Regions from separate parts of the Homo sapiens genome. Here region 1 is linked to region 2. Evidence: fine-mapped expression QTL. A gene starts in region 2. The other region holds a variant in brackets. All regions are shown on one strand. Distances are between the middles of the regions. Region 1 overlaps DPP3 (dipeptidyl peptidase 3). Region 2 holds the start of CTSW (cathepsin W).

Region 1 (4,340 bases), 630 kb after region 2:
TGTTGCCCAGGCTGGAGTGCAGTGGCTCGATCTTGGCCCACTGCAATCTCTGCCTCCCGGGTTCAAGCGATTCTCCTGCCTCAGCTTCCTGAGTAGCTGGGATTACAGGCGCGTGCCGCCATGCCCGGCTAATTTTTGTATTTTTAGTAGAGACAGGGTTTTGCCATGTTGGCCAGGCTGGTCTCGAACTCCTGACCTCAGGTGATCCACCCTCCTCGGCCTCCCAAAGTGCTGGGATTACAGGCGTGAGCCACCATGCCCAGCCGGAAAAAGCATTTATTAAGACGCTCATTCTAGATGCTTTTCCATGCTCTCCAGAGGCTTCCTGGGATTTGGCCCCAACCCTTGCCAGCCTCACCACCCCTTCTCTGGCTCACTGTACTCCAGTCTCCCGACCTTTCTGTTTCTTCTACCCACTGAGCTGGGTCCACTCCTACAGCCTTTGAATAAGCTGTTCTTGCTGCTTGGCATGATCTTCCTCCAGATCTTTGCCTGTCTGGTTCTTTTTGTCCTTCCGCTCCTTGTAAAACGGCACCCTGTGAGAGAGGTTGTCTCTGACCCCTCCACCTAAAGTAACTGCTTCGGTCCCTCTCTGTTCTGCTACCCAGTTTCATTTTCTTCTAGCGCCCATCACGCTTGCCCATTTTCTTGGTGGTCACTTCTCATGATGGGAGGAGCAGCATACCCCAGTGCCTCATGCACAGCCTGGCACACTGGAGTTGCTCAGTGACTGTCAAATGAGTGCATTAATAAATCATGCCAGCCACATGGACAATACTCTCAATTGCTTTGATATGTCCAGCCCTGTGCGAGCCATGGGGGAGCCACTAGGGATCCGGAGGTGATCACAGCTCACTGGGGATGATAAGATATGGAGATAAATAATCATACAAGGGGGCCGGGCGCGGTGACTCACACCTGTAATCCCAGCACTTTGGGAGGCTGAGGCAGGTGGATCACAAGGTCAGGAGATCGAGACCGTCCTGGCTAACACGGTGAAACCCCGTCTCTACTAAAAATACAAAAAATTAGCCAGGCATGGTTGCAGGCGCCTGTAGTCCCAGCTACTCAGGAGACTGAGGCAGGAGAATGACCTGAACCCGGGAGGCGGAGCTTGCAGTGAGCCAAGATTGCGTCACTGCACTCCAGCCTGGGTGACAGAGCGAGACTCCATCTAAAAAAAAAAATAATAATAATAATCATCATCATAATCATACAAGGGAAGTGTTAATGAGTGGCCAAAACATATAAACAGAACTCTGAACACTTAGAGGAGGGAAGATCGCATCCATCTTCAAGAGTATCCGGGAACGTTCTGGGGAGGAAGGGGTGGTTCCCACTAGATCTGAAGAACAGGTTGGATTTTCAAAGGTTGTGATGGTGGTGCACTGTAAAAAGTTTTTTTTTTTTTTTTTGAGGTGGAGTCTCACTCTGTCCCGCAGGCAGTGGTGAGATCTCGGCTCACTGCAACCTCCACCTCCGGAGTCAAATGATTCTCCGGCCTCAGCCTCCCAAAAAGCTGGGATTAGAGGCACCCACCACCATGCCCAGCTAATTTTGTATTTTTAGTAGAGATGGGGTTTCACCATGTTGGCCAGGCTAATCTCGAACTCCTGACCTCAAGTGATCCACCCGCCTCAGCCTCCCAAAGTGCTGGCATTACAGGTGTGAGCCACCACACCCAGCCAGGTCGCTGTAAAAGCTTTCTATGGCTTAACTCCTAACAACCCAGAGAGAAATGGTTATTATCCTCATTTTTCATCTGGAAAATGAGGCACAGAGGGGCTGTGTATTTGCCTGCGGTCACAAAGCTGTTGGGTGGCAGAGCCAGAACTTGAACTCCAGAGCTTGTGCTCTTTGCTGCTGTGCAGCTTGTGATGTCATGGAACACGACAAGGTGCACAGAGAGGGTAGAGCAGTTGAAGTGTGTTTGAGGGCAGTGCTTCCCGGGGGTATTCAGGGGACCCTCAGAACAGCCCATTTAATAAATCAGTAAACAGGTTCGGAGATAATGATGCCATGGTGGCTAGCATTTGTTGAGCACCCCCTCGATGTGTGACTATGTCATCACTGCAGCTCCTTTACAGATGAGGAGACTGAAGCTTGGGAGGTTGCAACACTTGCCCCAGGTCCCACAGTAGACAGATGAAGTCGTTGCTGAATTGTGAGCTTCAGGACACCAAGGACTGTATCTGTTTCACCTAGTGTGGCACCTGGTGTCTTTTATTATTTATTTATTTATTTATTTATTTTGAGGTGGAATCTCACTGTCACCCAGGCTGGAGTGCAGTGGCACGATCTCTGCTCACCGCAACCTCTGCCACCCGGGTTCAAGCAATTCTCCAGCCTCAGCCTCCCGAGTAGCTGGGACTACAGGCTCATGCCACCACGCCCAGCTAATTTTTTTGTATGTTTAGTATAAACAGTGTTTCATCATGTTGGCCAAGCTGGTCTCAAACTCCTGACCTCAGGTGATCCTCCCACCTCAGCCTACCAAGGTGCTAGGATTACAGGCATGAGCCACCATGCCCAGCCTAAATCTTTATTTGATTGACTGAATGAACGAAAGCAGCAATGCATTTAATACTCCCCCTGTAGTATTTCCTTCCTCACAGGGTTACTGTAAAGAGTAAATTAAGTAATTAACCTAAAACGTAGAGCACAGGTTTTTTTGGCAGAGCTCAGTAAGAAACAGCTGCTGCTGTAATTGTGATTATTAAGATTTTTATGATGATTCAGTTTCCCTATTCAGACCTTTCCCTGCTGTTTTCTCTCCATCTCCTCCCCAGGCTCAGACGTGCAGCTTCTGGAATAC[G/A]AGGCGTCAGCTGCTGGCCTCATCCGATCCTTCTCTGAGCGTTTCCCAGAGGATGGACCCGAGTTGGAGGAGATCCTCACACAGCTGGCCACAGCCGATGCCCGATTCTGGAAGGGCCCCAGTGAGGCCCCATCTGGCCAAGCTTGAGGAAGATGTGTGGCCTTGCCCCCAATTCCATCAGACCAAGGCTGCAAGTGGCCCTCCATTCGTGTGTGTATTTAGGGGCTGGGGAGGGGGAGGGGCAGGAGCTTGGACCTTGGTACTACCTCAGCTGAGGGTGGTGACACAACCCCTTCCATTTGTCAGCACTTTCCAGCCTGCCAATTGCTTCCCCTCTGTGATCTCATTTCATCTGCACTGCCATACGTGGAGTGAGCAAGACAGGGCTTACCATCCTGTCTACCAGATGAGGAAATGGCAGTTCTGAGAAGTCACTGGTCTAGATCCCGCAGGTGGCACGTGACAGCTAGGGTTCAAAACGTTCTCACCAAATCCAATGCTCCTCACATATTAATTTTATAACCAGACAAATAAATATTAGAGACAACCACCATCTTTGCGGCGTGTGTGGCTCCTCCTTGCCTTTGCCTGTCTTCTCATTTACTCCCAGCAGAGTGATGGGCTCAAGGCCTGGGGAGGGGGCAAGGAGGGCCATTTTTAGCCTCCCTTCCACAACAGGATGTTGACATTATCTCTAGATGAGGATACGCAGTCACAGAGCTGAACATAGCACAATTTTTGCAGCTCTCCTTTGTGGCATTCCTTGCATTTTTAAATGTTCTGGGGCCGGGCACGGTGGCTCATGCCTGTAATCCCAGCACTTTGGGAGGCCGAGGCGAGGGGATCACGAGGTCAGGAGTTCGAGACCGGCTTGGCCAATATGGTGAAACCTCGTCTCTACTAAAAAATAAAGTAGCTGGGCATGGTGGCATGCGCCTGTAATCCCAGCTACTCGGGAGGCTGAGGCAGGAGAATCCCTGGAACCCGGGAGGCGGAGGTTGCGGTGAGCCGAAATCGCGCTACTGCGCTCCAGCGCAAGCGACAGAGCGAGACTACGTCTCAAAAAAAAAAAAAAAAAAAAAAAGTTCTGGGAACCTACAAACTCAACTTCAGTCAGAATCCTCTGCATTTGTCCCATAACCCTCGTGTTTTGTTTCTCTGGGCCTGGACCTCTACAGTAACGCAGCAAGGCAGGACATGGTCCTTTTCAACCGGGTAACCATGAAGATGGAGACAGGAGGAGTTCTTTTTGCTGCTCATAAATGCTAGAAGGGGCTTCTTTCCAACCCTGGAAGCCAGAGGGCTCTGTGGCTGACCCAGAGATTGTAGGACCCAGACGCCTGGAAAGGTGGCTCTGACTGGGAAGGAGCAAAGATAAATATCTTTGAGGAATCTGAGACAGATTCCTCAACCCAGGAAGGTGGCCAGCGCGTCCTCCTGAGCCTGGGTGGGAAAGCTTGGCGCCCGGAACCTTTGTACTCGCCCTTCCCTGTGCTCGGGCACTATTGGGCGTTACGCGAGGGCG
Region 2 (4,383 bases):
TTAGCCGGGCGTGGTGGCGGGTGCCTGTAGTCCCAGCTACTCGGGAGGCCGAGGCAGGAGAATGGCGTGAACCCAGGAGGTGGAGGTTCCAGTGAGCCGAGATCGCACCACTGCACTCCAGCCTGGGCGACAGAGCGAGACTCCGTCTCAAAAAAACAAACAAAAAAAAGAAACGCAGTAGTGAGCATGTAAGTGAATAAATCCCAGGATTATAGCTGTCCTGTCTCCCACCCCATGGAACCCTAGAAAGCCAGCTCTTCACACCCTTCTCTGGTCTTGGTCACCAGTTCTCAGCCTGAACTCCTATAGGGGAGGTCCCCAGCCCAAGGACCCACTTAGAACAAAGGCAGCAGTAACGGGTGTTAATGCTGCTGCCCAGCCCTTGACCTCACAAGTCAGGCTTTGGCCTCCCTCCGTCTGTGATGCTCACCCTGTTATCCTTCTGGCTCTTCAGCCCCCTCATCCTCATCCCTAGACCGTGGGAGGGATGAGGAACGGGAGGCACTGGCTGCAGTTGCTGCTCCCGGACTCTGACTCTGCGCTTTCCTGTTTTGTTTTGTTTTTTGAGATGGAGTTTCACTTTTGTTGCCCAGGCTGGAGTGTAATGGTGCGATCTCGGCTCACTGCAACCTCCACCTCTCAGGTTCAAGTGATTCTTGTGCCTCAGCCTCCCGAGTAACTGGGATTATAGGCGCCCGCCACCATGCCCAGCTGCTTTTTTGTATTTTTAGTAGAGACAGGGTTTCACCATGTTGGCCAGGCTGGTCTCCAACTCCTGACCTCAGGTGATCCACCCGCCTCGGCCTCCCAAAGTGCTGGGATTACAAGCGTGAGCCACCGTGCCTGGCCTGGTTTTGTTTTTTTGACACAGGATCTTGGACCCACGCTGGAGTGCAGAGGCATGATCATAGCTCACTGCAGCCTTAATCTTCCAGGCTCAAGCAATCCCACTGGCCTCAGCCTCCCCAGTAGCTGGGACTACAGGAGAGCACCACCATGCTTGGCTAACTTTTTTTTTTTTAAGTAGAGATGAAGCCTTGCTCAGTTGTCCAAGTTTGTCTCCAACTCCTGAGCTCAAATGATTCTCCTACCTTGGCCTCCCAAAGTGATGAGATTACAGGCATGAGCCATTATGCCCGGCCTGCTTTCCTGTTTAAAACTCATGATGATCAATTGTTCAGTCAACAAACACCTAGCGAGCCTGACTCATGCCTAGCCCTATCCTGGGAACCGAGGACACCGAGGACACAAGCGAACTGAACACTTCTGGTGTGGTTGGAGGCAGATGCCCAATGGGCACAGGTGCAGCTGGGCTGAAGGGGCTGCAAAGCTTCTACCAGAGGTTGGGGAAGCAGGGAAGGCTTCTTGAAAGAGGCGGCCATTGAGCTGACTGAGCTTCATAGGATGAGCAAGAGTGGTTCCCTTGGCTGGGCGCAGTGGCTCATGCCTGTTATCCCAGCACTTTGGGAGGCTGAGGCAGGTGGATCACCTGAGGTCAGGAGTTGGAGACCAGCCTGACCAACATGGTGAAATGCTGTCTCTACTGAAAATACAAAAAATTCGCTGGGCATGGTGGTGCATGCCTGTAGTCCCAGCTAGTCGGGAGGCTGAGGCAGGAGAATTGCTTGAACCCGGGAGGTGGAGGTTGCAGTGAGCCGAGATCATGCCACTGCACTCCAACCTGGGTGGAAAAAAAAAAGAAAGAAAGAAAGAAAGAAAAAGGGGTGGGATGGGGAGCAGACAGGCAGGGACTGAAAGCCTGAAGGCCTGAGCAACTTGTGGGTTCTAGGGGTCCACCCTCCACCCACCAAGCCTGTCTTCCCCTTCGTGGTTTCTCCAGCCCCACCCTCACACCGTCCTCCTCGATCTGCGCGGCTTCCTGCCTCCATGCCACTCCAGACTGCACCGGCATGGCACTGACTGCCCACCCCTCCTGCCTCCTGGCCCTGTTGGTGGCAGGCCTAGCCCAAGGCATCAGAGGCCCCCTTAGGGCCCAGGTAAGTGCTCCCAAACCCTTACCTATGCCAGTCCCACGCCTGGGGTCACCCCTTCAGAAACAGCTGGCCTGTCATTCTCATTTTTCAGAGGGAGTTGCTGAGGCTGGAGAGGGGGCTGACGTGCCCAAGGGCACATGGGAAGACAGAAAAGGCTAACTGGCTGACCCCTAGCCCAGTCCTTGCACGGCTGGGAACTAAGGTGGGGCCCCAGCAATGATTCCTCTGCCCACTGCCCCTCTCCACCCTTGGTTCCTTGCCAGGACCTAGGTCCCCAGCCGCTAGAGCTGAAAGAGGCCTTCAAGTTGTTCCAGATCCAGTTCAACCGGAGTTACCTGAGCCCAGAAGGTATCACAGGGCACATACATCTCCAGTCCAAGCCCCCACTTTTTTTTTTTTTGAGACGGAGTTTCACTCTTGTTGACCAGGCTGGAGTGCAATGGTGTCATCTTGGCTCACTGCAACCTCCACCTCCCGGGTTCAAGCGATTCTCCTGCTTCAGCCTCTGAGTAGCTGGGATTACAGGCATGCGCCACCACACTTGGCTAACCTTTACATTTTTAGTAGAGATGGGGTTTGACCATGTTGGCCAGGCTGGTCTTGAACTCCTGACATCAGGTGATCCGCCTGCCTCGGCCTCCCAAAGGGCTGGGATTACAGGTGTAAGCCACGGAGCCCAGCCATCCCGCTTTGTAATAGATGAAGAAATCGAAGCTCAGGGTGGGGAACAGGCATGGCCAAGGCCACTCAGCAGGACAGGCCAGGGCTGGGGGTGTGTTCCCTGGTTTCCCGAAGGCATGAGTGGGTCCAGGATCATTCTTTGCTATGGATCTGGAGGGCAGTGGCAGGAGGTGGGGTCCTGCCCTAGTCCTACGTGATCCCCTGGCTCCACAGCCACTTCCCTGCGATTCTAGGCAGTGGACAGGGGGCCACCACCTAGTCATTTGCTCATTCAGCAAACACCCAAGGACACCCATTTTGTCCCCACATTGGGGACTTCTTCTCTAGCCCATGATCTAACCCCTGCCCCTGCCCTCTCGCTGTGCTGATCTCTCTAGGGGGCTGATCTGTGTGTGCCTTTTAGCCCAGACTGCCTGTGCCTTGTCATCTCCTCTCCCTGCCATGTTCCAGCTCTCCTCCTGTGGTCAGAGGTGTAAAGGACGTGGCCTGGCAGGAAGCTGGTCTCCAGCCACACATCCTTGAGTCACCACCACCGGACCCCTTGCCTGGCTTCCCACCTAGGGTGGCCAGAGATGGTCCTCTGGCTGCCTCTGGGGAAAACCCAACCCTCGGTGGGCTGGGTAACCACTTCCTGGGCCTGGGTATCTGCAGTGGGGCCTTGTGGGGGCTACAGGAAAGGAGCCAGTGCTCAACTGGGTGGGTGTGGGTGGAAGGGTGCCCAGCCAGCGGCTACTTCCTGCCCCTAAGGGCTTGGGAGTCAGCCTAGGACAACTCCCTTTTGGTCCAGAGCATGCTCACCGCCTGGACATCTTTGCCCACAACCTGGCCCAGGCTCAGAGGCTGCAGGAGGAGGACTTGGGCACAGCTGAGTTTGGGGTGACTCCATTCAGTGACCTCACAGGTACCATTAACCCTTCTGGCTCGTAGGTGGTGGTTGGGAAGCGATCTCCCCAGGGACACTGGCAGCTGGACCCAGCGGACCTTCAATTTTTACTTCCCAGGGAAGGAAATTCATTTCCCTGAGGACCAGGGGCTTGGGTGCTGGTATCAAATCACCCAGTGCAGGGGCAGAATCTCTGCAGTCCTGTGTCCTAATCCAGCCTAGGGGCCAGCGCAGCAGCTGCAGGGAAGCACCCAGCAGGGAGCCCAGCCTCTCTAGGCTTGGCACCCTTGCCTTTTTGAGACAGGGTCTTGCTCTGTTGTCCAGGCTGCAGTACAATAGTGCAATCACAGCTCACTCAGCCTCCACCTCCTAGACTCAAGCAATTCCCCCGACCCCTCAGCCTTCTAAGTAGCTGGGGCTACAAGCCCGCACAACCACGCCCAGCTAATTTTTCTACTTTTTGTGGAGATGGGGTCTCGGACTCCTGACCTCAAGTGATCCACCCACCTTGGCCTCCCAAAGTGCTGGGATTATAGGTGTGAGCCACCACGCCCGGCCTATCCTTGCCTTTTTGCCCCTCAGGGAATTATGGGACCAACAGCTGGAGTGGGAGAGGCAGAACAGGGAGAAGGGGTCAAAATGGAGACCTCAGTGGCCCTGTCTGTTCCCCAGAGGAGGAGTTTGGCCAGCTCTATGGCTATCGGAGGGCAGCTGGAGGGGTCCCCAGCATGGGCAGAGAAATAAGGTCTGAAGAGCCAGAGGAGTCAGTACCTTTCAGCTGTGACTGGCGGAAGGTGGCCAGCGCCATCTCACCCATCAAGGACC

What was found. PIP is the estimated chance that this variant, and not a neighbour inherited with it, causes the effect. A credible set is the group of variants that fine-mapping cannot tell apart.
Region 1: its variant is the best candidate, but not a certain one, in a credible set for the expression of CTSW in whole blood (INTERVAL, PIP 0.50).

Annotation. Positions count from the first base shown.
Region 1 is chr11:66,506,290-66,510,629 of GRCh38, forward strand. DPP3 (dipeptidyl peptidase 3) reads left to right here. Exons shown (of 18, transcript NM_130443.4): 18 at 2,790-3,368. The coding sequence ends at 2,962. Among named protein-coding and RNA genes, the nearest start is that of BBS1, 2.2 kb to the right of the region's middle. RefSeq lists an enhancer at 4,208-4,257. The variant G/A (reference allele first, on the strand shown) is at 2,816.
Region 2 is chr11:65,877,945-65,882,327 of GRCh38, forward strand. CTSW (cathepsin W) reads left to right here and starts at 1,893. Exons shown (of 10, transcript NM_001335.4): 1 at 1,893-1,997; 2 at 2,258-2,342; 3 at 3,463-3,576; 4 at 4,231-4,383. The coding sequence starts at 1,911.